Homo sapiens: one gene and its partners. The protein of the gene in region 3 purifies or fractionates together with the protein of the main gene of each other region. This does not show direct contact. Each region holds a gene or a part of one and is shown on either strand. Other genes may lie near its edges.

Evidence for each region.
Region 1: the proteins of AQP9 (region 3) and RAB6B purify together in Homo sapiens (affinity purification with mass spectrometry; one large-scale study listed by BioGRID and IntAct). This does not show direct contact.
Region 2: the proteins of AQP9 (region 3) and USP32 purify together in Homo sapiens (affinity purification with mass spectrometry; one large-scale study listed by BioGRID and IntAct). This does not show direct contact.
Region 4: the proteins of AQP9 (region 3) and CYP51A1 purify together in Homo sapiens (affinity purification with mass spectrometry; one large-scale study listed by BioGRID and IntAct). This does not show direct contact.
Region 5: the proteins of AQP9 (region 3) and ADCY3 purify together in Homo sapiens (affinity purification with mass spectrometry; one large-scale study listed by BioGRID and IntAct). This does not show direct contact.
Region 6: the proteins of AQP9 (region 3) and DIP2A purify together in Homo sapiens (affinity purification with mass spectrometry; one large-scale study listed by BioGRID and IntAct). This does not show direct contact.

What each region holds. Positions count from the first base shown.
Region 1 is NC_000003.12:133,889,202-133,893,175, reverse strand, and holds part of RAB6B (ras-related protein Rab-6B), read left to right. Parts: intron 1-3,974. UniProt on the Homo sapiens protein: The small GTPases Rab are key regulators of intracellular membrane trafficking, from the formation of transport vesicles to their fusion with membranes. Rabs cycle between active GTP-bound and inactive GDP-bound states.
Region 2 is NC_000017.11:60,221,058-60,225,031, reverse strand, and holds part of USP32 (ubiquitin carboxyl-terminal hydrolase 32), read left to right. Parts: intron 1-1,445; coding exon 1,446-1,621; intron 1,622-2,482; coding exon 2,483-2,623; intron 2,624-3,974. UniProt on the Homo sapiens protein: Deubiquitinase that can remove conjugated ubiquitin from target proteins, such as RAB7A and LAMTOR1.
Region 3 is NC_000015.10:58,175,976-58,179,949, forward strand, and holds part of AQP9 (aquaporin-9), read left to right. Parts: intron 1-3,152; coding exon 3,153-3,370; intron 3,371-3,974. UniProt on the Homo sapiens protein: Aquaglyceroporins form homotetrameric transmembrane channels, with each monomer independently mediating glycerol and water transport across the plasma membrane along their osmotic gradient.
Region 4 is NC_000007.14:92,124,403-92,128,376, reverse strand, and holds part of CYP51A1 (lanosterol 14-alpha demethylase), read left to right. Parts: intron 1-745; coding exon 746-872; intron 873-1,949; coding exon 1,950-2,124; intron 2,125-3,974. UniProt on the Homo sapiens protein: Sterol 14alpha-demethylase that plays a critical role in the cholesterol biosynthesis pathway, being cholesterol the major sterol component in mammalian membranes as well as a precursor for bile acid and steroid hormone synthesis.
Region 5 is NC_000002.12:24,913,523-24,917,496, reverse strand, and holds part of ADCY3 (adenylate cyclase type 3), read left to right. Parts: intron 1-3,974.
Region 6 is NC_000021.9:46,535,316-46,539,289, reverse strand, and holds part of DIP2A (disco-interacting protein 2 homolog A), read right to left. Parts: intron 2,067-3,974; coding exon 2,002-2,066; intron 1,845-2,001; coding exon 1,751-1,844; intron 808-1,750; coding exon 688-807; intron 1-687. UniProt on the Homo sapiens protein: Catalyzes the de novo synthesis of acetyl-CoA in vitro. Promotes acetylation of CTTN, possibly by providing the acetyl donor, ensuring correct dendritic spine morphology and synaptic transmission.

The DNA of each region.
Region 1 (3,974 bases), on a different chromosome or scaffold from region 3:
GCCAGGCTTATAGTTGGGGCTTGTGACTGGTAGGAATGCTGAGTAGTTGGTAAGGAGCAGGGTTGTGAGCCCTTGGAACATGGTCATTAGAGAGTCACTGCTATCAGTGAGATGGGCTGCTGGCCACCCTGGTGCCTTCTGTCAGGGAGTCCCAAGGCCCTGAAAAGCCTGTTTCCAATTTGTTGCATTGTTAGTGGGTTCTTTTAGGTTTTACACAGCTTTTGAGTTAGGTAGGGGACATGTATGTGCATCTCTAAGCCTTATGGGATGGGGAGTCACCTCCACAGCCGCTTCTTCTACCTTGCCTGCACAGTTTTGCATCTGTTGGTCATTTGTGCCAGCATTCTCTGCAGCCTGTGCAGTGGAGAGAGCCACCTGAGGGCTGGCCCTCACGCTGGCCCTGGCTCGCTCTTTTTATATGACCTCAGAGGTCCCTTATCTTCTGTGCATGGGGGACTTGGGCCAGCTGAGCTCAGCGGAGTCTTTCAGAGCAGCATGGGCTTGCCGATATGAGCCGAGTGCCCTGGAGATGGGCCAGGGGAAGGAGCTGGAGGGATGTGGCTTTATCTTATTTCCTGTGCCTAGCATAATGGTGGCATTTCTCTAGCCTGGTGGGCAAGGGCAATGGATTCCCAAGAAGAGTGGCGTGCATGGACCAGGGTGTGGAGCACACCCTGGGCCAGATAATCGCAGGTGGACATCAGGTCTTTGAAGATACCAGGGAACTGGTTTGAATGGGAGGCCCTTGAGAAGCCACTCTGGAGGAAATACCTCAAGCCAGTGAAAGAGCCCCCCTCCTGGCAGCTGTCCCCCTGGCCTGTGGAATATAGGCTGGCTGACAGTGTCAGCTTGGCACAGGCTGGGATTGTGGGGAGGGTGCTGTGGACCCAGGATGAGAGATTTCCTTGTGGCAGGGAGGCTGTGGAGTCCCCCTGGTGCCAGATGGCTCTCTGGGCCTATTGGGTATGCCCCTGTGCTGATGGCAGTGGTAGGAGACATGGGAGGGTGACATATGTCAGTCCCGACTGGGGCATTTGATGGCGTCCGAGAAGACAAGCAGGAGCAGGTGTTTGAGGAGGGGAGAGTGGGCCTGTGGGACCCACGTCTTCCTCCTAAGCTCTAATGGCATTCTGTCGGCTTTTAGGCCTCACTTGGCACATCTCAGTGTGTGTGGTGGGAAGGGTCAGGGATGCGTCTGCTGTGCACTGTCTTCTTCTGACCTCCCCTTCCCCAAGACTCTTCCAGCAAAAGCAGGAAGACTGGATGGAGACGCAAAAGCTCTGTCTGCTTTCCTAGCTGAGGACGGCAGGCCAGTTTCTCGCTCTGACCAGCCACCTGCCTGCCCTGCCCCTGGTATTGTGCTGCTGGAGGTGCTGTCCATGTTGAGCATACTGTGAATAGCATTCCTTGGAGCTGTGCAATGAAGCGACTATGCAGGCAGCTGCCTTTTTGTTGCTCAGTTGTTTAGTCATTTGTTCATGTATCCTTCCGTCCCACTCCTTCTCTCTCCTGTCCTCCCTCCATTATCTGTTTATTTATTTATTCTTTGAGCGTATTCCTGCCCTCCTGGAACTTATAGTCCACTGGGAGCACAGACATTTGTGGATATAATTACAGTAAAGGTCTATGAGAGCCATGATGAGAGAAGAACAGCTGCTACTGGGGCCTAGAGCAGGGGCGCCTGACCCGCCTCTGGGGGCTGGTGTCAGAGGCAGCTTCCGTAGGCTAGCAAGGGATGCTTCTATAGGCAGTAGGCTACTGCTACTTCATCTTTGGGCTGTGTGTAGAAAGTAGGTCTTGGAACAAGCCCACCCTACCCAGAGGGCCTTGCCTGTTCTTCTGCTCTGCCCTGTAGAAAGTGTATGAGGTGGAGGTTCAGAGGACAAGGGTGACTCTCAGGTATCTGGCTTGGTGGTACTGAGTTGGGGCTGTCCCTGTACTTTCAGCCCATTCCTCTGTGGTTAAGGGTTAATGATCATTCAGTGGCCCCCACTGCCTGGAAGGCTCACTCCTCTGCCCGCAGCCTGACCCATCCTGACCCCTGCCCTCCCACTAGCCACACCATGGAACACCTGCCCTCCTGCAGGGAGCCCTTCATCAGCCTGGTAGATGTGCCAGCAGCCCCTCCTAGCAAGTTTCCTCCTCCCACCAATTTCCAGACTTACCTGCTCTTAGGTGCTCACTTCCACTCCTGCTCCCCTGGGCTACCAGCCCACCTGGCCACACACCATGGCATAGCTTTGGTTTTCTCTGAACATTTCTTAAATACAATACAATCATATGCTTCCCCATGACCTGTCTTCTGTTGTCTCTGTTAGCTAAGGATTTTAAAATGTTAACTTTTTCAGGTACAAAAACCGTAATTGAATTTTAAGCATCTTCTGAGGTCTATGTCTTAGTCATCATTTCACCCCTCCCCACCTGCAGGTAGTTTGTGCTTATTAAGTATCTTGATTTGAAAATGATGAGATTATCCTTGCTGTGTGAGATTTGCTGATGGCCCATCAGTAGATTAAAAGTGAAGGAAGTTGAGGTGGCTTGAAATAGGATTCCTATTTCAAATTCCTGACACCTGCTGCTTTTTTAAGCCAGATTTTTTACCAGCAATATCTTAAGAATCTTGGCTTACTGCAACCTCCGCCTCCCGGGTTCAAGCAATTCTTGTGCCTCAGCCTCCCGAGTAGCTGGGACTACAGGCCCACACCAATACGCCCGGCTAATTTTTGTATTTTTAGTAGAGATGGGGTTTCACTATGTTGGCCAGGCTGGTCTCGAACTTCTGACCTCAAGTGATCTGCCCACCTCAGCCTCCCAGAGTGCTGGGATTATGGGTGTGAGCCATGGTGCCCAGCTGGATCATGTAACCTTGGTCATGCGCAACTCACAATTCATCTCAAAAAACCTGAAGTTCTTGGGGGGCACTTCCTCATTCCTAGTCTCTGAAGAAATACATGAGAACAACCAGGCCACCAGAGGTGGAAAGGGACACACCAGACCTCAGCTTGCCAGAGCTCACTTTGACATCTGGAAGAAATCACCCTGTTGCCCTGAGCCTTAGCTTCCTTCTCTTGATTTCTCTCCTCCCAATTTTTCTCCTTTCCTCAGTGGCTGGCATAAGAAGGGGCACCTTTGTGGAGGTTGGGTACAGGCCCAGAACCTTTGCTTTTTTATTTGTTTAAACAGATGTGTGTGAGTGAGAGAGTCAGACAGACACCAGGATGAGAATTAACCTGTACTTGGTATAAGAGGAAGGTGGCACCTTTAATCTGATGATGCATAGCAAGAGAACTTGCCAGCAAAGAAAAAAGAAACTTAGAATATGTTCTGGCTGCGTAGATGTAATAATAATTACTGTCTTTTGCATGATCTGATGATCATTATCATTTGCAGCCCCCAGATTATAATGAATCACATTAAATTATAACAAAATAAGGCTGGGCGTGGTGGCTTACGCCTGTAATCCCAGCACTTTGGGAGACCAAGGTGGCAAGGTGGGTAGATCACTTGAGGTCAGGAGTTCGAGACCAGCCTGGCCAACGTGGCAAAATCCTGTCTCTACTAAGAAGTACAAACATTAGCCAGGCATGGTGGCGCATGCCTATAATCCCAGCTACTTGGGAACCTGAGGCAGGAGAATCGCTTGAACCCGGGAGGCGGAGGTTTCAGTGAGCCGAGATGGCACCACTGCACTCCACCCTGGGCAACAGAGCAAAACTCCATCCCAAAATAAATATATATATATATATATATATATATATATATATATATATATATATATATATATATAACAAAATAACCTTATTGTCCTTTTGTTCCTTATTCTATCCCTAAAATCAGTCTATGACTATCTTTATAGATGTTGCCCCGACATTGCAAACTTTGCAGACTGGCCGGGGCCAGGCCCAAGGGTGGTAACATTTGTATCCCATCCAGGCTGCAGATTTCCCCTGTCCTCCCCACCCAAGTCGTCCATT
Region 2 (3,974 bases), on a different chromosome or scaffold from region 3:
CATCAGATTCTATGTATATTTCAGGCCAAAATATGGAGATTATTTTGTTAAAATACTGAGAAAGAATTCAGATGCCTCCCATAATTCCCTTTAGGCCTTGGTACTTACCTAAAACTTCATGTTTCCACACCTACAAGGAAGATGCTGTGGTATTTCTATGGCCCAGCTGAATTGAGTTGATTGCTGTTATTCTGGTACAGTAGCAGAACCCTCAATCTTACCCTATTGTTATTTATTTATTTACTTAAAGAGACAGGGTGTCACTCTGTTGCCCAGGCTGTAGTGCAATGGCATGATCATAGCTCACTGTAACCTCCAGTTCCTGGGCTCAAATGATCCTCCTGTCTTAGCCTACCTGGTAGCTGGGACTACAGGTGTACACTGCCACACACAGCTAATTTTTTAATTGTTTTGTAGAGACGAGGTCTCATGTTGCCTGTGCTGGTTGCAGTCTTCTGGCTTCAAGCAGTCCTCCAGCCTTGGCCTCCCAAAGTGCTGAGATTACAGGCATGAGCCATTCCTCCTGGCGTGTGTTATTATTTCTTCCAAGATGTTCTTTTCCTTTTCTGTGGAAGGTGTAAGCAAATTGGACAGAGCTAGCATTTTCTTCACAAAGCTCCTTGTAGAATCTGCTTCTTCCCTCCCTTTCTGGTATTACAAAGATCACTTAGCAGTCCTAGAAGTGCTGTCATCAGCTTTAACATGAGGATTATTTCTTAACCCCATCTAAAGATCCTGTTTGGTATGTGCTTACCATATAACTTGTGACACCCAAAGGCTGCATACCACAGGCAGAAGGTTACAAAGTGATGACTGCTAGATTGTTTACCAAAGATTAGCATGTAGTTGAGAGTTGAAATGGCTTAAAATACCACTGAGGCTCACAACTCTAAGCCATGGTTAATCATCTTCTGTGCATATTTTCGTATTGTAAAGATCATGTATTTCTTTCAAAAGAACTTGTGGACATTGAGTTCATAGATACAATAGGATCTAGCCCCCATTACTCTTTTGTTGGAGTTCTTGTTTTAGTTTTCTTTTAATTTAGTGACTTCATATCACCATTATCTACCAAGAACATTTGGAATATTTTTCTAGTTTGAGGAAAATAATTAAAGGATGCTATGTAGAAGCCCAGCCACTTAGCCCAGCTCTTCCCTTCCAGTCGGAGGACATATAATTCTCATTATGAATTATTAGATATTCTAGGAGGGTGGCCAAATGTTCATTTGGTAATAATTTTAAAAGCTCTTATTTTTAGTACCATGCCATGTATTGTTCAGAGAAGGATAACATTTCCTGTCTTCTACAGAATTACCAGAATCTTAATCTGTACTGACATGTCAACAGAGTAATACAATACATGGGCATTGAGTTCATATCCTCAAGCCTGTTTATGTATAATAACTAAAAATAAGAGATTCTATCCTCTTTTTTTTTTATAGGCTTTCTGTATTCTGCCACACCAGGGGCAGATGTTTGCTTTGCTCGACAACATAACACTTCTGACAATAACAACCAGTGTTTGCTGGGAGCCAATGGGAATATTTTGTTGCACCTTAACCCTCAGAAACCAGGGGCTATTGATAATCAGCCATTAGTAACTCAAGAACCAGTAAAGGTAAGTAATTTTACATCTAAACTTAAAATTATTCTCTTGCAAGCTATTAATAAATTTCATTTCAGAGGTTTTAGCACATAGCAAAACATTGATGGTTCATTTAATTACTGTATTATAGATGGACATCTCTTTGTATAGTACATTTCTGTGAGAATATTTATGATTTAGAACTTACATAGAAGTAGTTTAGTAACCCTTGGCATTATTGTTATTCTTACTTAGGACAGCTATTCTGAAAATGTTGTTTCACATACGCTATGTATGAATTTTTTTTTCCAAACTAGTATTTTTTATTGTTTGAAAGAAATCTGTGAAGTTATTTCAAGTGCTTTAGTGATTTTTCCAAATGATATGCTTTGAGTTTCATTTCTTACATAGTTTATTTTGAAAGTCAAAAATAAAAATCTCTCATTAAAAATTCAGTTTTTTTGCTGGACGTGGTGGCTCATGCCTGTAATCCTAGCACTTTGGGAGGCTGAGGTGGGCAGATCACCTGAGGTTAGGAGTTTGAGACCAGCCTGGCCAACATGGTGAAACCCCGTCTCTACTAAAAATACAAAAATTAGCCGGGCATGGTGACGTGTGCCTGTAATCCCAGATACTCGGGAGGCTGAGGCAGGAGAATCACTGGAACCCGGGAGGCGGAGGCTGCAGCAAGCGAAGATCGCGCCACTGTACTCCAGCCTGGGTGACGGAACAAGACCCCGTCTCAAAAAAAAAAAAAAAAAAAAAATTAAGTTTTTCCAGCAACATGAAACTGGGTGGTGATATATGAGTTTGTTTTCCTGTTTCTAGGTATTGCTGAGACCCAAAAACTTTTGTAATATTGAAAGTCAACATTGTCATTCTATTCTTTCTCAGGCTACATCATTAACACTAGAAGGAGGACGATTAAAACGAACTCCACAGCTGATTCATGGAAGAGACTATGAAATGGTCCCAGAACCTGTGTGGAGAGCACTTTATCACTGGTATGGAGCAAACCTGGCCTTACCTAGACCAGTAAGTATAGTTAATAGTGCCTTATATAAGGAGCAGTCATAGATGGGGGTCTTCTGTTACTTTTTCTATGTGACTCTCACTAACCACAAAGTAGCTCTTACCTTGTGGTAGAAGAGTGTTCTGAACCTGTGTGGATTGTTCAATGTTAAGTTCCTTCACATTCGTTCATTCATTCATAAATAAAGGCAAGGAAATAGGAGGCTGTTGAATGTGTTATCCACATAAAAGTAGACATCACCTAGGATATGTGGAACTTAGGCTGGAGGGGAAGACAGGCCAAGAGCCAGTGCCAAAAAGTTCAGTGAATGTAGGGCGTGATGCAGAGGTTATTTCTGAAACTACTATTCCTAACAATCACACAAGTATCTAGTTAGGGATTGGATTCTTCTTGTAGCTTTTGGTGGATTTTTGTGGTTTATGTTTTTGAAGGAGGGGCATATAAAAGATCACAACATATGATAACAGAATATTATATTAAAATATTAGTATATAGCACCATTTGTTGTGCTTACACGGTAAACAGCACTCGGTACTCTGGACACTCACTTTTTACATTGTTGATGAAGTAAAATATAACAAGATGTTTTGGTGGGATTTGTTTTGGTATATTAAGAAACACTCTTCCACCTGTAATCCCAGCACTTTGGAAGGCCGAGGCAGGCAGATCACGAGGTCAGGAGTTCGAGACCAGCCTGGCCAACATAGTGAAACCCCGTGTCTAATAAAAATACAAAAATTATCCAGTGTGGTGGCACACTCCTGTAGTTCCAGCTACTTGGTAGGCTGAGGCAGGAGAATTGTCTGAGCCCAGGAGGCAGAGGTTGCAGTGAGCCAAGACTGCACACCATTGCACTCCTGCCTGGGTGACAGAGCGAGATTCCGTCTCAAAAAAAAAAAAAAGAAAGAAACACTCTTCCTTTTATAATGTCCAAGCTAAAACTTCCTTATGCCAGGAAGGTTTTGTATAGATGAGATATGGTACGTTAACTTCTAAAAAGAGTAAAAATCTGTTATAAAACAGACTAATGTAATTTTGATGTTGATTTTGAGTTCTTAATAATTACGTTTATGAAAAATAACCTCAAGCTCCAGGGTTTGAACAATATTCCCACCTCAGCCTCCCCAATAGCTAAGACTGCAGGCACACACCACCATAACAGCTAATTTTTAAATTTTTTTAAGAGACAGAATCTTGCTGTGTTGCCCAGGCTGGTCTCGAACTCCTGGTCTCAAGCAGCCCTTCTGCCTTGGCCTCCCAAAGTGCTGGTATTACAGGCATGAGCCACTGCACCTGGCTTGTAGTGTTGTTTTTATTTGATTTTTATTGCTCCCTCTTGATACTAAAAAAAAA
Region 3 (3,974 bases):
ATGCAGAGTCTGAATGCTTGAATTAAAATAGCTGTTCTGCCTCCAACTTCCTGCGTGGCTTCAGCAAAGTACTGAACTTTTTGGGTCGCAAGTTATTCACTTGTAAAATGGGGATAATATGAGCCTTCATGAAGTTACTTATGAGGATAAAAAGAATAATATGAGAAAAACGCATTGTAAGCAGTATCTGCCCAGAAATTTTGAATCTAGTTGAAGAGCATTGAACAAGGAAACAATGCAAAATAAGATATAATTAGACAGAGCTGGGCACGGTGGTTCACATCTTACTCCCTGCATTTTGGGAGGCCAAGGTGGACAGGTCACTTGAGCCCAGGAGTTCACTACCAGCCTGGGCAACATGGCAAAACCCTGCCTCTACCAAAAATACAAAAATTAGCCATGCGTGGTGGTGCTTGCATGTAGTCCCAGCAACTTGGGAGGCTGAGGTGGGAGGATAGCTTGCACCCAGGAGTTGGAGGCTGCAGTGAGCTATGATTACACCACCACACCTCAGCCTGGGCAAAAAAGAAGAAAATTAGATAGGAAACTGGAGTATAGCGACCATATTATAATAGAAATTTGAAGCAGAGAGCATAGAAGAGCGAGGACAATTTTGGTTATTTTGGTGTTTTTCTCTAAGCTTTTTTTTTTTTTTTTTAAGACTGAGCCTGTTGCCCCAGGCTGGAGTGCAGTGGCGTGATCTCAGCTCACTGCAACCTCCACCTCCCAGGTTCAAGCAATTCTCCTGCCTCAGCCTTTGGAGTAGCTAGGATTCCCAGTGTGAGCCACCACTCCTGGCTAATTTTTGTATTTTTAGTAGAGACGGGGTTTCACCATGTTGGCCAGACTGGTCTCGAACTCCTGACCTCATAATCCGCCTGCCTAAGCCTCCCAAAGCTGTATCTTGATCAATGCTGACCTGCATACCATATCCTGAGCTTCCTTCATTGTGTCCTTGTCTCAGAGTGAGTTGGCAATTTCTCTAAGGTCTGTGGTTTCTAAGCCCATTATTGTGTATAAAGTCAAGTAGAAAAAGCGAATATTAGAAAACCCTGAGGCTGTAACCGTCAGCAAACCCTGAATGCTGTCCGTATTCTTAGGCTTTGGAGAGAGTTCCAAAAATTGCCAATTATCAGTCAGTCAACACCCAACAGAGCTCTTGGCCATCATGACCATATTTTGGGGTCACCTTATTTCAAGATTACTAAATTGTTTAGCTGTAAATACTCTTCAAGCATATTCCTTGGTTTAGTTAATAATCAATCATTTATTTACCCAATAACTATTTACTGGGCACCTACTTAGCCAAGTACAGCTCTATACTCTTCCTTCTTCAAGGAGTTCAGAGTCTGAGGCTCAATCTAACAAGTAAGTAGATACTCTTTTGCAGAGTGACAGGGACACTGATACAAGTAAAGTCAGAATGTCATGGAAGCCCAGAGGAGGGAGCTTTTACTCTGCAAGAGAGAGTTGGAGAAGGCATTCCAGAGAAGAGTGCTCTTGGGGGAACATGTGTCTTTTAATATTAATTAAAAATTATTTTAACATTATTATTTTGGAAAGCAGATGAAATGATAATGAACTTAAACTTTAAAATCAGTTGCCTGGTTCCCATCCTGATTCTTCTGCTTACAAGTTTGACATTGGACAAGTGTCTTAACCTTGTTTTACTCGAGTTTTCTTATCTATAAACTGAGAATAATAGCAGGATTTACCTCACAGCATTACTGTGAAGTTTTAATGAGATAAAGCATATGAAGTACCTGGCACATAATAAATGTTCAATAAATAATAGCTATCATTTAACTGTTAAAGTAAAACAGTAGTTTGGAAAACTAATAACATAGAAACCAGCTATAATTGGCCAATTCAAATACCTATTATCATTTTTGTTTATTGTCTTAAAATTTTTCTTTTACGTATGTTTTTAAGTAGAGTCAACCCTACATATCCATGAATTCTGCATCCATGGATTCAACCAACCATGGATCAAAAATATTTTTAAATTGCATTTGTATTGGACATGTACAGACTTTTTTCTTGTCATTATTCCCTAAACAATACCGTATTCACATTATATCAGATATTATAATAATCTAGAGATGATTTAAAGTATACAGGAGGATGTGCATAGGTTATATACAAATAATACACAATTTTATATTGGGGACTTGAACATCCATGGATTTTTGGTACTTGCAGGAAGTCCTGGAACCAATCCCCCACAGACACCAAGGGACAGCTGTATAAAACACAAAACAAAACACAAACACAAACAAAAAAATACAAATTTTTTTCACTTAATGTTATAAGTATTTTTAAATATTACTACATAGCTTTTATGTTTATAGTTTTTAATGGCTATACAGTAGACTAAAAAAAGAGTAAAAGCTTCCAGTTTTTCAGTACTATAAATTTTGCTAAAGTGGACATTTTAAAATGATTTTTCCACGTTTTAGATTATTTCCATTGTGTAATTCTCAAACATCCAGCAGCATCAAATTGTATAAATAAATTTATGTTTTTGAATGCATATTGCTAAATTATTGCTGAATTTCCTTTTAAAAGCATAGTACTTGTTTAGATCTATTAGAAAAGCCTGAAATAACGGGTATCTTTTTCCTAACATTTGATATTGTTTGGATTTATTTTATTACTAATGAGTTTTTACCACTGCTTTCCTAATTCTGTTTTCCTTTTTTGAATTTTCTGTTCACTTCCTTTGCACACTCATCTATTGATATCTCACATTGCTTTTCTCACCAATTTGAACAAGCCTTTCATTCATTTTTCCAGCCTGCAGCTTGCCGTTCTACTTAGCTGAGTAGTAGCTTAGCAGGATAGTGTGGTATTAAGATAACAGTCTCTGGAGCCAAACTCTCTGGATCCAAACCTGACTGCCACCTACTAAGTGGGCAGGGTAACCAATCTGTAAATGAGAATTATATTGGCTTCTCCTCTAGAATTGCTGTAGAAAGAAGAGAGACTGGCACAATTATTCACCCAGTACATGCCAGTTATTACTAGGCATATTGTAATATAAGTAAAATAGTAATATTGTAATATTGTAAAATAGTAAGAAGGGATGATTTTGAGACATGCAGGTGAGCAGAATGCAGGCTAAAGCCCTGGCTCAACTTCTCCCTCTCCAGGTGGTGGCCACCATGATACTCCTCATAATCGTCTTTGCCATCTTTGACTCCAGAAACTTGGGAGCCCCCAGAGGCCTAGAGCCCATTGCCATCGGCCTCCTGATTATTGTCATTGCTTCCTCCCTGGGACTGAACAGTGGCTGTGCCATGAACCCAGCTCGAGACCTGAGTCCCAGACTTTTCACTGCCTTGGCAGGCTGGGGGTTTGAAGTCTTCAGGTAAGTAACAGTGGTGGGGAAGAGAGAGACAGAGTCATGCTGCGCCTCACCAGTGGGGCGGGGCTTTGACATGGAGATCCAGGGAAGTTCAGATGACAGCGCCAACGTTAACTGCACACTCTGGTCATAAGCATGAGACATTTCACTGGTATTTTGTGGTATGATGTGTGTGTGTGTGTGTGTGTGTGTGTGAAAGAGAGAGAGAGACAGAGAAAGAGAGGCGGCTCTAGGTAAATTCAATAGAGATAAAACTGTCCCACATAATAATAATCCCTCAATTGCTATATGATTTTATGTGAACATTTTAGCTGTATAACTTGTCTGCAGATTCATTTTGTGACAAAGTTGGGCTACAATTTGCATCCTATGATGCCACTACAGGGCTCTTCCTCGTGAACCACGCAACCTATGCTGCACTTATTCCACAGATATTTGTTGGGCATTATCTGTGCTTTAGTCACTGTGCTAAGCAAGGAAATTTCAAATCAGCAAAAGCACTCACCTTGAGCGATATAATAAGTGCTCTGGCAACCCCTAAAAGTGCTGCAGGAACACAGATAACGTGTGAGTAACTGCCAGGGAAGCAGGGAAAGACATGACTGCA
Region 4 (3,974 bases), on a different chromosome or scaffold from region 3:
TTCAAAAGTCTGAAGAATCATGAGAAGAAAGGCCATGGATAACTGATAAGTAATGGGTATTTAGTTTTATATTTGCTGTCATGGCTAAACAATATTAAAGGGCTTCCTGTACAAATAATGGAATCAATGATAACTTAGCATACTGGGATTTAATTTGAAAGGGTTATTAGACAATGCTGTTACTTCATCAAAAGGACTTCCTGCCTACCCATTCCTGCCTGAAATTCTAACATAAGCGCTGTTTAGAGATTGCTGACTTCAGAAGTCCTCTTTTAATGCAACAACTTCACGTGTGGGGTACATCTATGTGTATGTTTTACCCTCAAAAGCCAAATACGAAATTGTTTTAAGTTGATATAGAACACAAATCAGACAATTGGCCCCAATGCTTGGTATGGGCTCTGGCTGTGAATGTAACACACATTAGCCAGTACCCTAGTATAGCAGTTAAGAGTTAACATTAAATCTTGTTTCTAGTGATGGGGAATGAGGGAATGAATGCCTCTCCTTAAGGCCAAAAAACAGGGCCCTGGAAAATCCCTCTGTTCAGATATATATATTCATTTAGACTCTATTCATTTAGAGTCAGATAGATCTATTCATTTAGACTCTTAAAATGTAAATGCCCAAAGGGTTAAAACCATTACTTGTGTTAGTGTTACATAATTATAATAACCTAAATGGATTTTATGATAAAACAAAAATGTGTTTTAATGCCGTATCCCCGTTTTGAATTTTTTTGAAGGTTTTCTTGGAGCAGAAGAAAATGTTAAAAAGTGGCCTTAACATAGCCCACTTTAAACAGCATGTTTCTATAATTGAAAAAGAAACAAAGGAATACTTTGAGAGTTGGGGAGAAAGTGGAGAAAAAAGTAAGCAAAATGTTTTATGTTTGTCCTAACATTTCTACTTCTCTGTGAATAGAAAAGTAGAGTATATATGTGTGTAGTATATAAAAAACAAATTACAGTGTATGTAAAACTACCTTAGATTTATGGGAGGGTTATGTAATGATTACCATGAAGTTGTAACTGAGAATCCAGTTTTTATACTGGGCTGCAAGTTAAGTATTGCCTTCAGAAGCAATTGCTGTGCCCATAGTAGGAAGCAACATCTGCCCACAGGGCAGCAGGACCCAGGGCAGCAGGTCACTATATTCTGGGTCTGGCCTTTGGCCTCTGTAAGAGTTCCAGAATCTTTGTTTTTGGTATACTTAAGTTGATATTGATATATTTTCTAACCATACAAGAAACTGATGTATAAATTAGAATGCCAATGTAATAATGCATGTGAGACATATAATTACAGCACCAAGAAATCCAGAATATTTACTGATATTCTTTTTATTGACAAATATAATTGGAAAGCCAGATGATCATTGGAAGTTCATTTAGTGAATGTGGAATTAACAGGAAATTAATTGGATAATTTTTATTAGTTGTCATCAAATTATGCTTGCCTGGTGCATTTGTCTCCAGTGTTGGGATATACTAATTGGTGATTATAGTTTTCTTTTACATATCGCCAGTAATTCCATTTTGGCCCTGATCTTCCTACTTTTAACCTGGGAAATAATCTGATCTTTGGCTACTATTCCTTGGGAAGTACCTTATTATTGTCATATGCACTATAAATAACCTTTTTTCTGCTTTTGTTATTGTGACCTGGAAATCAAATAACCACATTTATTCTTTTCATGATGAAGTGCTCATGAGTGGGGTTTTGAGATGTGTTTCTGGGATCTGTTTTGGCTGTTTAGAGGGACAGGGTGCTTCACATTGTTTGGTTTATTGCCCCTCTTTGTTGTTGTACATAGTCACATGTCTGTCTACAGACTTTTTTTGATGATATGAATAGGATCTTGTTTCTTCTTGAGTTCTGTTTTTAATTCTCAATTTTCTTTCACTTTTTGGAAATAGTAATGAGAATAATCTTTTTTTTCTCCCTAGATGTGTTTGAAGCTCTTTCTGAGCTCATAATTTTAACAGCTAGCCATTGTTTGCATGGAAAGGAAATCAGAAGTCAACTCAATGAAAAGGTAGCACAGCTGTATGCAGATTTGGATGGAGGTTTCAGCCATGCAGCCTGGCTCTTACCAGGTTGGCTGCCTTTGCCTAGTTTCAGGTATGGATAAAGAATATATTACACTAGGTTATTTAACTTTGTATAATTATTGTAGTGTTGGTATGCTTTGCCTTAACAAAGATAAAAATTAAACAAGTAAAACATACAAAATGGGTAAGATTATGAATCCCCTTTCTTCTATAAGAATTCAAGACAAATTTTCTTTATATAATGAGCTCATTTAAAGTAAGTTTCAGTTTATTAAAAAGGTGATTTGTTGTCTGTCTAGTCTAATATTTTATTTATGTTTTTGTTTTTGAGATGGAGTCTTGCTCTGTTGCCCCAGCTGTAGTGCAGTGGTGTGATCTCGGCTCACTGCAGTCTCTGCCTCCTGTGTTCAAGCAATTCTCCTGCCTCATCCTCCTGAGAGCTGGGACTACAGGCACGTGCCACCATGCCCAACTAATTTTTCTATTTTTAGTAGAGACAGGGTTTCATCATGTTGGCCAGGCTGGTTTCAAACTCCTGACCTCAGGTGATCCACCTGCCTCAGCCTCCCAAAGTGTTAGGATTACAGGCGTGAGCCACTGAGCCCAGCCTAGTTTAAAAGCCTGCTTACCTCACGTATTCCTTATCCTCAGGAAAGTCTCTGAACTATACCTAAAAGTGATACAGCTCTTCTCTAGCACTTGTTTGAAATCTTTGGTGGCTTTTTATTGTATTGTGAAGTTTCTTTGTTTTAAATATTTGTGCCTTTATTTAATTTTCTGTTTCTTAAGGACAGGGACTGCCTCTGATATAAAGAAATATTGCTCTTAGGACTTGATCTATAGCTTAGTGCTTAGTGTTTTGCATATTAGTAGGCTTTCTGTACTTTTGTTGATTTATTGGTGTTTAGGTGACAGATGGGGAGGAGATAGATTGCTAGTCCCTTTTCTTCTATTTCTGCCCCCTCTATCTAGTTACAGATTGGAAGAGGGGTGGGAGTAAAAGGAAGAGCCAGGAGAGATTCCCTAAAGTTCTCTGGAACTCATCATACCTTATATTTGCAAGGAGCTTTGCAGTTTCAAAATGTTTTCATATATCTTATATTAGAACACCCAGCACAGCCCTGGACTCATAGTGGGTTCTCCATAAATGTGCATTTCTTTTTTTTTTTTTTTTTTTTGGTGATGGAGTCTTGCTCTCTCGCCCAGGCTGGAGTGCAGTGGCATGAGCTCGGCTCACTGCAAGCTCTGCTTCCCAGGTTCACGCCATTCTCCTGCCTCAGCCTCCCGAGTAGCTGGGACTACAGGCACCCGCCACCAAGCCTGGCTAATTGTTTTGTACTTTTAGTAGAGATGGGGTTTCACCGTGTTAGCCAGGATGGTCTTGATCTCCCGACCTTGTGATCCGCCCGCCTCGGCCTCCCATAGTGCTGGGATTACAGGCGTGAGCCACTGCACCTGGCCCATAAATGTACATTTCTACCTGCCTGTTTCTACCTGCTCTGTCTCTTGGATGAAGTCAGAGCTTGCTATGTTAGGCCCTTCACATTCTGGCCCAGTCTTTCTTTCTTCTACTCATACCAACTAATTTAACCAGATTATTCAATTCACTTTCTTAAACAGGCCTATGTTTTCCTGGTTCGACTGTATTCATACAGTTAAGCCCCAACATCTTCTCTTCTGTACACATGGTTTCAGTTGATCCTCAATAACAGATTAACAGTCTTGTAAATGAAACAGAGTAGGAGTTTTTTTTAGAAGGCTTGATTTAAGAGGGGGCTTGGGAGTCAGACTGCCTAGTTTTAAATTCCAGCTCCAATGTTTGCTTTCTGTGTGATCTTATGCAGCTAGCTATAACTTGAGGTTAATAGTATGTACCTCACAGGAAGATAAAAGTGAGTAATTCATGTAAAACACTTAACA
Region 5 (3,974 bases), on a different chromosome or scaffold from region 3:
GGACAGTAGGCAGTGTGTGTCCCTGGGGAGCCAGCAAGCCGGTGACCAGAGAATGAGGCGGAGATGTCTGCATCTGGGTTTGGTGCCCAGCCTGCCAGCCTCGTGCCAATGATGGTCAAGAGAGGCTCCCCCACTTCCTGCCCCTGCAGTGCTCTGTCTGGTAGAGATGTCTTAACTCCCACGCCAGCTCTGTTCTGTGGTTAGTGGGGCTGGGGTAGAGTCAGCTCTGAAGCGGTGACCTTCTGGGTGTCAGGAGAGGCAGGGCGTGCCCAGAATCCTTGCTGACTGACGTGAGCCTCTAGCAGCCATGGAGGTCAGTGCCTGGGTCCTGGAGACCAGGTGCTATGTGCAGGCCCAGGGTGGACAGACAGAATCTTCCACTCCTCTGCTGATTTCTCCACTCATGTCTCATCCTGCTGATTTGTTCTAGAAATGGGTAGAGGATGTTAACATAGGCAGGGCCTGGCAGGGCATCTAGCCCAGACTACCCATTTTACAGAGGAGGAAACAGAGATGAGTGATAACTGGTTCACTGTCACCCAGCACTTTGGTGGCAGAAACAGGACGGGAGCCCAGGCATTGACCCCCAGCCCAGGGCTCATTTGTGTATGTTCCTTGGAGCACTGAGAGCTGCCTGAGAGCAGGAGCTTTGCTTCCCACCCCACCTCCTGGAGACAGTGGCTATGTGCTGCCCTGCCGTCCCCACCCCAAATCTCTGTAGAGGGGGCTGTGAGTTTCTGGTCATTGACTAGGTGGAAACACCAGTCATATCTCTTCAGGCCATGCATTAGCCAGTCCCAGGTTCTTTTTTTTTTTGAGACGGAGTCTTGCTTTGTTGCCAGGCTGGAGTGCAATGGCGCGATCTCAGCTCACTGCAACCTCCGCCTCCCAGGTTCAAGCTATTCTTCTGCCTTAGCCTCCTGAGTAGCTGCGATGACAGGCACGCGCCTCCACGCCTGGCTAATTTTTGTATTTTTAGTAGAGACAAGGTTTCACCATGTTGGCCAGGATAGTCTCGATCTCTTGACCTCATAATCCGCCCGCCTCGGCCTCCCAAAGTGCTGGGATTACAGGCGTGAGCCACCATGCCCAGGCATCCCAGGTTCTAAGGTCTGAGGTCTGAGGATGACTGGTCTCTCTAGCTCCATCTCCTCAGGTGGACAAGGAGCTTATTTTGAGGCTCCTGGAGCTTCCAGGGAAAAGGACTGAGAAGGTATGGCCACAGGGCTGGGCCGGGGCCTGGGTGCCCCACCACGTGGCTACTCGGAGATCACTTCTAAACTCATGATTGTTCTCCTTTGAGTATTGCTAAGACATAAAACCCTAAAACTTAGAAAACAGAAAAAAAAAGATAGAAATCAAGAATAAAAATATTAGCATCCCAGGGGAGCCTGACCTTGGCATGCAAGCAGTGCCTGGGAGGCAGCTTTGGGAACAGAGCAGGAGGGGCAGAGAGCTCTCAAGGTCCGATTGGGAGCCTGAGATCGAAGGCAGGAGGCCCCAGCTTACAGTGGGCTGTGTTCCAGAAGCTTCTGAGTCACTGGTTTGGGACTAATGTGACTTTTTAAAAGGTGCCTGGGTTCCCAGGCCCACCCACCAGGGTCTTCCTCAACTCACAGCATCCCGGCATTTGGCCTCTGAAGATGGTGGAAATGGGGCCGGGCATGGTGGCTCATGCCTGTAATCCCAGAACTTTGGCAGGCTGAGGCGGGCGGATCACCTGAGGTCAGGAGTTCAAGACCAGCCTGGCCAACATGGCGAAACCGCATCTCTACTAAAAATACAAAAATTAGCCAGGTGTGATGGGGCGTGCTTATAATCCCAGCTACACAGGAGACTGAGGCAGGAGAATCACTTGAACCTAGGAGGCAGAGATTGTAGTGAGCCGAGATCGCACCACTGCACTCCAGCCTGGGCGACAGAGTGAGACTCCATCAAACAAAAACAAAAACAACAAAAAACACAAGCTGCAGCAGCCTGTGTTGCTGTGGGGAGGGACACCCGGGACAGCGGTCTCCCCTGAGCCCTGGAGTGAGGTGTCATTCATCTCCCCTGCTGCCGTTGCCTCCTGGGATGTGGGCCCCATCAAGGATCGGGGGCAAGGGCTGGAGGACAGGATGCAAGAACCAGGGGACCAGGCCCCTTCTGGTCAGGGTAGGTCCCAGAACTTTCTCCAGACCCCAGGCACCGCCTTTCTCCTACCCATGTGCTTGCCCTTGTCTTTCTCTCTCCCATCCCCTGTCGGCTCTGGCTGGGGACTCCCTCCAGGGTCAGTGGGGGATGAACGCAGTTTCCCAGTTCGAAATAGACACCTGGATTTCTGGGTTCTTGTGAGTTTTGTGGTTTTGTTGCTGCTGTCACTGGCAGCATGAAGAAGCATTGCCAGTGTCAAAAGTCTTCTTCCTCTGCAGCCCTTATCCCCCCATGCCCATGCGCAGCTCTGTGGGGAAGGACAGAAGGTACACATGGGGCTGTTGGCAGCCTGAGAGGTCAGAGGCCAGCCAGACAACCTGTCCTGGGCTCCTCGCAGGAGGCCAGTGGGTGGGGTTCTGACAGGAAGAGCAGGTGATCAGGGAGTGTGGGATGGGGTGGGGCTGGGGCCCCACCAATGAGTTAATGAGTGAATATTGCCGAGCAGCATGGGCCTTGCAGCCTGCAAGGTCAGGGGATAAGGAGGATGAGGCCATCTGACACTCAGGCTGTGCTGGGGCGGGGAGGATGTTCTGAGAGCCACCTTGGGTGGGCAGAGACCTAGCCAATGGTTCTCACGACCCATCCTCTAGCCCCTGCCTGTCCCCCATTCCTTTTTTTTTTTTTTTTTGAGACAGAGTTTCATTCTTATTTCTGAGGCTGGAGTGCAATGGCACAGTCTTGGCTCACTGCAACCTCCTCCTCCCGGGTTCAAGTGATTCTGCTGCCTCAGCCTCCCAAGTACCTGGGATTACAGGTGGCCGCCACCACGTCTGGCTAATTTTTTTGTATTTCTAGTAGAGACAGGATTTCACCATGTTGGCCAGGCTGGCCTCGAACTCCTGACCTCAGATAATCCGCCTGCCTTAGCCTCCCAAAGTGCTGGGATTACAGGTGTGAGCCGCTGTCCAGAGGAGGGAACAGAGGACGAAACAGAGATGGGTGATAACTGGTTCACTGTCACCCATCACTTTGGTGGCAGAAACAGGACGGGAGCCCAGGCGTTGACTCCCAGCCCAGGGCTCATTTGTCTGTGTTCCATGGAGCACTGATTGCTGCTCCATGGGTCCCCCATCCCAAGAGGCAACACAGGCCCAGAGCAGCCGGAAGGGAGGACAGATGGATCAGGAGGAGCCGAGGCTGGCAGTGTTTGCCCATTTCGCTCCCCTGGCCTGGGTCCTGCCCCAGGACCTGTTACGGAATTACTTGCCCTTTACTGCCCTAAACTGCCCCTGGGCTGGGTGAGGAGGAAGGAGGGGACTGGGCTCAGGACCAGGACCTGCAGGACCAGCGGCCAATGAGTGCGGACAATGGGGAAGGCAGCCAGGATGGTTGGGGGTGGTGGTGGGCGGGGCGTGCCTTTAGCATTTGGCAAAGTAGGGACTAGGAACTGCTGACAAATATTTTGTACCCTTACTTCAGAGCAGAAAGGCTATTTGGGAGCAAAATTCTCTCATGGAATGAAGAGCCTGTTAAGACCTTTTTTCACCAAGTAAAACATGAGGAAGCTGTGGATGTGCAGTTTCTTTCACACCTGCAAATTACACAGCAATCATTCACCCAGCAAAGGAACATTTGCTCCTAGGGGCTGGAGGGAGCTGCCGTAGGGAGGGTGAGAGGAAACTGAGGCTTCCAGAGACACCCTGTCTGCAGACGGCAGGTAGCTGTTGCATGCACCTCATCCCATTTAATCCTGGATGTTACTGGCTCCATTTCACAGATAAGGGGACTGAGGCTCAGTGAGGTTGAGAGGAGGTAGTGGGGCTGGATTACAGGGGAGGGGT
Region 6 (3,974 bases), on a different chromosome or scaffold from region 3:
CAGTGCATAGACAATGATGCAGGTTAACAAACAAGAAAACCCCTAATACCTGGTCAACAGGTGTGTGCTGCAACAGGAGCCCCTGTGTGACCAGCATCACCTGAGGCTTCCCCAGAGGAGGTACTGAGTCAGACCCTGGACAGTCCTGGGCCCCAGAGCTCACGTGTGCAGCCTTGACAAAGCAGTTCCCATTCAGACCACCGTACGCAGGAGGCCCTACGTGGTCAGGCAGCAGCCATAGGGAGCTCCTCCTGGGAGGATGTGGGGGACACCCAGGCAAACCAGGAGGGAGAATGGTTGGGTCCTGGTGGGAGAAGTGAAGCCAGAAGCCAGAGACGTGGGGGCACCAGGACAAAGGGCAGGAGGGTGGGGATGAGGCCTAAAGAGAAACAGGAACCCCAGGCCACAGCACAATCTGGTAATTTCTTAAGAAAGATGACTCTCATTAAGGCATGTACCTTTCATCAAGCATATTAAAATTGCTTTTAAATTTAGTGGCCTAATAAACATGCATGGGATAAACCAGTGAATCACCAAGATGTTCCGTGTCATAGAAACGATGGGACATGTGTATCTATATGACAATGGCAGTGAAAATGCCTCCATTTTGCTTCTCAGTGTATTCTACTTTGGTTTGCAGGAGGGGACACTGTGTGGGGTATGCGCCGGGCACACAGGCTCACTCACACGGGTTGGCACCATCGGCCACAATCAGCATGCGCAGTGAGCTGAGGCTGACGTCCCTCTGGCCCCGCTGAGCTAGGAGAGACCAGTGCATGTCTCGCGACTTCACCAGCGCGGCCCGAGCTGCAGAGAGAGGATGGCACAGACATCCCTGCGTCACAAGGACTGGCACCCTCACACGCCTACAGACACGTGTACCTCATCCCACAGAGAGGTGTACATGCACAGACAGACACAACACTTAGCTCCCAGGTCACAAGCTCTCTGCAGCCGTCTCTCACATGCAGTCTAACAAACCCTCAAAGCTTTTTCCACAAAAATCAACTCTGAGGTACAATTTAGACATCAAAACCTCAGATCCATTTCCAACATTAATTTTTTCTTAGAAGCTCCATATTGCTCTTTTCCTATCTGCCCGCTTCATCTCATGTTGTCCTTCCCCAAACCCCTGGTGCTGGCTGAGAAGTGTGAGGACCCCAGAAGCTAAACAGATGGTCTCAGGCCTCAGTCTGGCCCCTGCACTGGCTAGCATGTGGAATCCAGCAATCCCCCCACCCCTACCCAAGCTTCAGTTTCCCTCCATAAAGTAGGACAGACAGAGAGAGCTGCCCCTCCACACTGCTCTGAGACATGTCTAGAGGGGCACAGCCCAGTAGGTAGAACAAGGCAACATGGGTGACCCAGGTGATCCAGTGCCTCAGTGGCTGGTAGAAGTGCCACTGAGCTCCACAGGGCAGAGACACAGACTGCCAACTGTGCAGGTGTGGCCATGCTGGGGCCTCCTGCTTGGTCCCAGGAGGCACCTCAACCGTTGAGAGAAGTAAGGCCCAGACCCCACCAAGTGGCCCTACTTACCACATCACCCACGAAACCCTGAGGGCCATGCCAGAGGCAGAGAAAGCCCCCATATTCCTGGGCAGGGGTGTGACCAAGAAAGACGTCCCACAGCTCTTCAGCCTACATCTGCAGTTCCACATGTCAGCTTTATTTTTTCTTAAGCACCAAAGGTCAGTTCAAAGAGATTTCCCTAAAGAAGGGTGAAGGCCCTGACCATGGTATCCGTTACCTTTATAGAAGCACACTTTCTGGATCCAGGAGAGTGGGTTCGCCTTCATCAGCGCGTAGGGGACGCTGACCACGTGCATCCTGTTCATGACGCTCTGTGGGGGAGCACACATGCTTAGGGCGAGTGGGCCCGAGCCACACCAGAAAAAGCAAAACAAAACCGATGTACTCTCCCAACAACATTTCAGGCAGAGGCTTGGGTTCATCTCAATCCCTTGTTCCAACAGTTAGTCATCAGCAAACAACACTCACTGTTAACACGCCATGCCACAGACCAGCATCCCTTTTGAAATCCAGCACGTTTGTTAATGTTTCAGCTGCAAGTGGACAAAGAAGGTGACACCACTGAGCAACCCTCTCAATAAGCCCTATGCATTTTCTAGAGAAATTCTGAGGTGAGTACGTCATCAACATGTAAGTTTCAGGAACAGATACAGCATTTCCAAATACCACATACCAATTAATAATAATCCTGGTTATCTATTCAAATTACTGGAAACACATAAAAGTAGAAGGTCATGGAACTAACACAGAGAACCACGCTGAGCACTAATCAGAAGGCACAGGAACATCACATACTGAAGAAGCTATACAAGGTGTCACCACAGCTTGTCTTTTCTTCTTTTTTTTTTTTTTTGAGACAGAGTCTTGCTCTGTTGCCCAGGCTAGAGTGCAATGGAGCAATCTCAGCTCACTGCAACCTCCGCCTCCCAGGTTCAAGCAATTCTCCTGTCTGAGCCTCCCGAGTAGCTGGGACTACAGGCATGCGCTGCCATGCCTGGCTAATTTTTGTATTTTTAGTAGAGAAGGGATTTCACCACGTTGGCCAGGCTGGTCTCAAACTCCTGACCTCAAGTGATCTGCCCGTCTCAGCCTCCCAAAGTGCTGGGATTACAGGTGTAAGTCACCGCACTCGGCCTCTCCACATCTTCTCATCAGATATTTTTGAGTGGGTATTCTTCTCAGAATCAAGAGGTGGGGATGAAAAACTGTCAGGGATATTCTTACTTCTCAACTCTACACCACATCTCCTCAATTCTCACACCCAGAGGCCGTGATCCGGCATCTCCCCTCTGTAAGAGCTGGTGGTTTGCATCACCCTTCGGAAAGTCACTCTTCCTCTGCCCGTTTTCTCACCCAGAGGTATGCAGCTAACACATCTTAGGAAGCTGGAGTGGATAGGGGTCCTGAGGGTTCCCAGCACAGCTCTCTGCTCAGAGCCCCTGGCCAAGTCTTCTCTAATATCCGGCTCCCACCTTGCACAGGCAGAAAGGACAGAGCCTGGGGCTGTGGGCAGACCTGGCTTCTCGCCAAAGGCCACAGCACTCCAAAGGCAAACAGGAGAGGTTTGATTTGTGTGCCAGGAAATGCTGTTGCACCATGAATAACAGTACTATAAACACCCTTTCTCTGTTGGTTAAGAACACAAATTATTATCATTATTATTTAGAGACGAGGTCTTATTACGTTGCCAGGCTGCAGTGCAGTGAATATTCATAGGCACAATCCCATTACTCATTGGCATGGGAGTTTTGACCTGCTCCCTTTCCTACTTGGGTCGGTTCACCCCTCCTTAGCAAGCTGGTGGTTCCCCACTCCTAGAAGGTCACCATGTTGCTGCCAAACTTCGTGCAGATACCTGGTTAGCACAGCCCACTACAGCCCAAAACTCCTGGGCTCAGGCGGTCCTCTTACCTCAGCTTCCCGAGTAGCTGGGACTATAGGCACACATCATCACGCCTGGCTAAAGAACCCAAATTGTAGGTGACATATGTAAGATCAGCTCTGAGCTGAAGACAAAGAAAGTCACGGGGCTTGATCTGAAAGATCTAACTTTTTTAATAAAGCCCTTAAAAAATACCTAAAATCACTTTCCAAATCTCAAGTAAAAGCTTTAGCTGTGCCCTCAACTTATACCCTTGCTTTTAAACACCTATATTTTTTTCTTTTTTAAAAATTCTATTTAAAATTTCTCCCTTTTTTTGTAGAGACAGGGTCTCACTATGTTGTCCAGGCTGCTCTCAAACTCTTGACCTCAAGTGTTCCTCCTGCTTTAGCCTACCAAAGTGGTGGGATTACTGGTATGAACCACTGCACCTGGCCTGAACACCTATATTTTAGATATTTAGACATACCATTCAATTTCACTCAGTAGTTTTGTTCAATTCTAGTATTACAATGTAAGAAAACTACTGAGTCCATTTTTACAGTTTTTAAAATTGTCA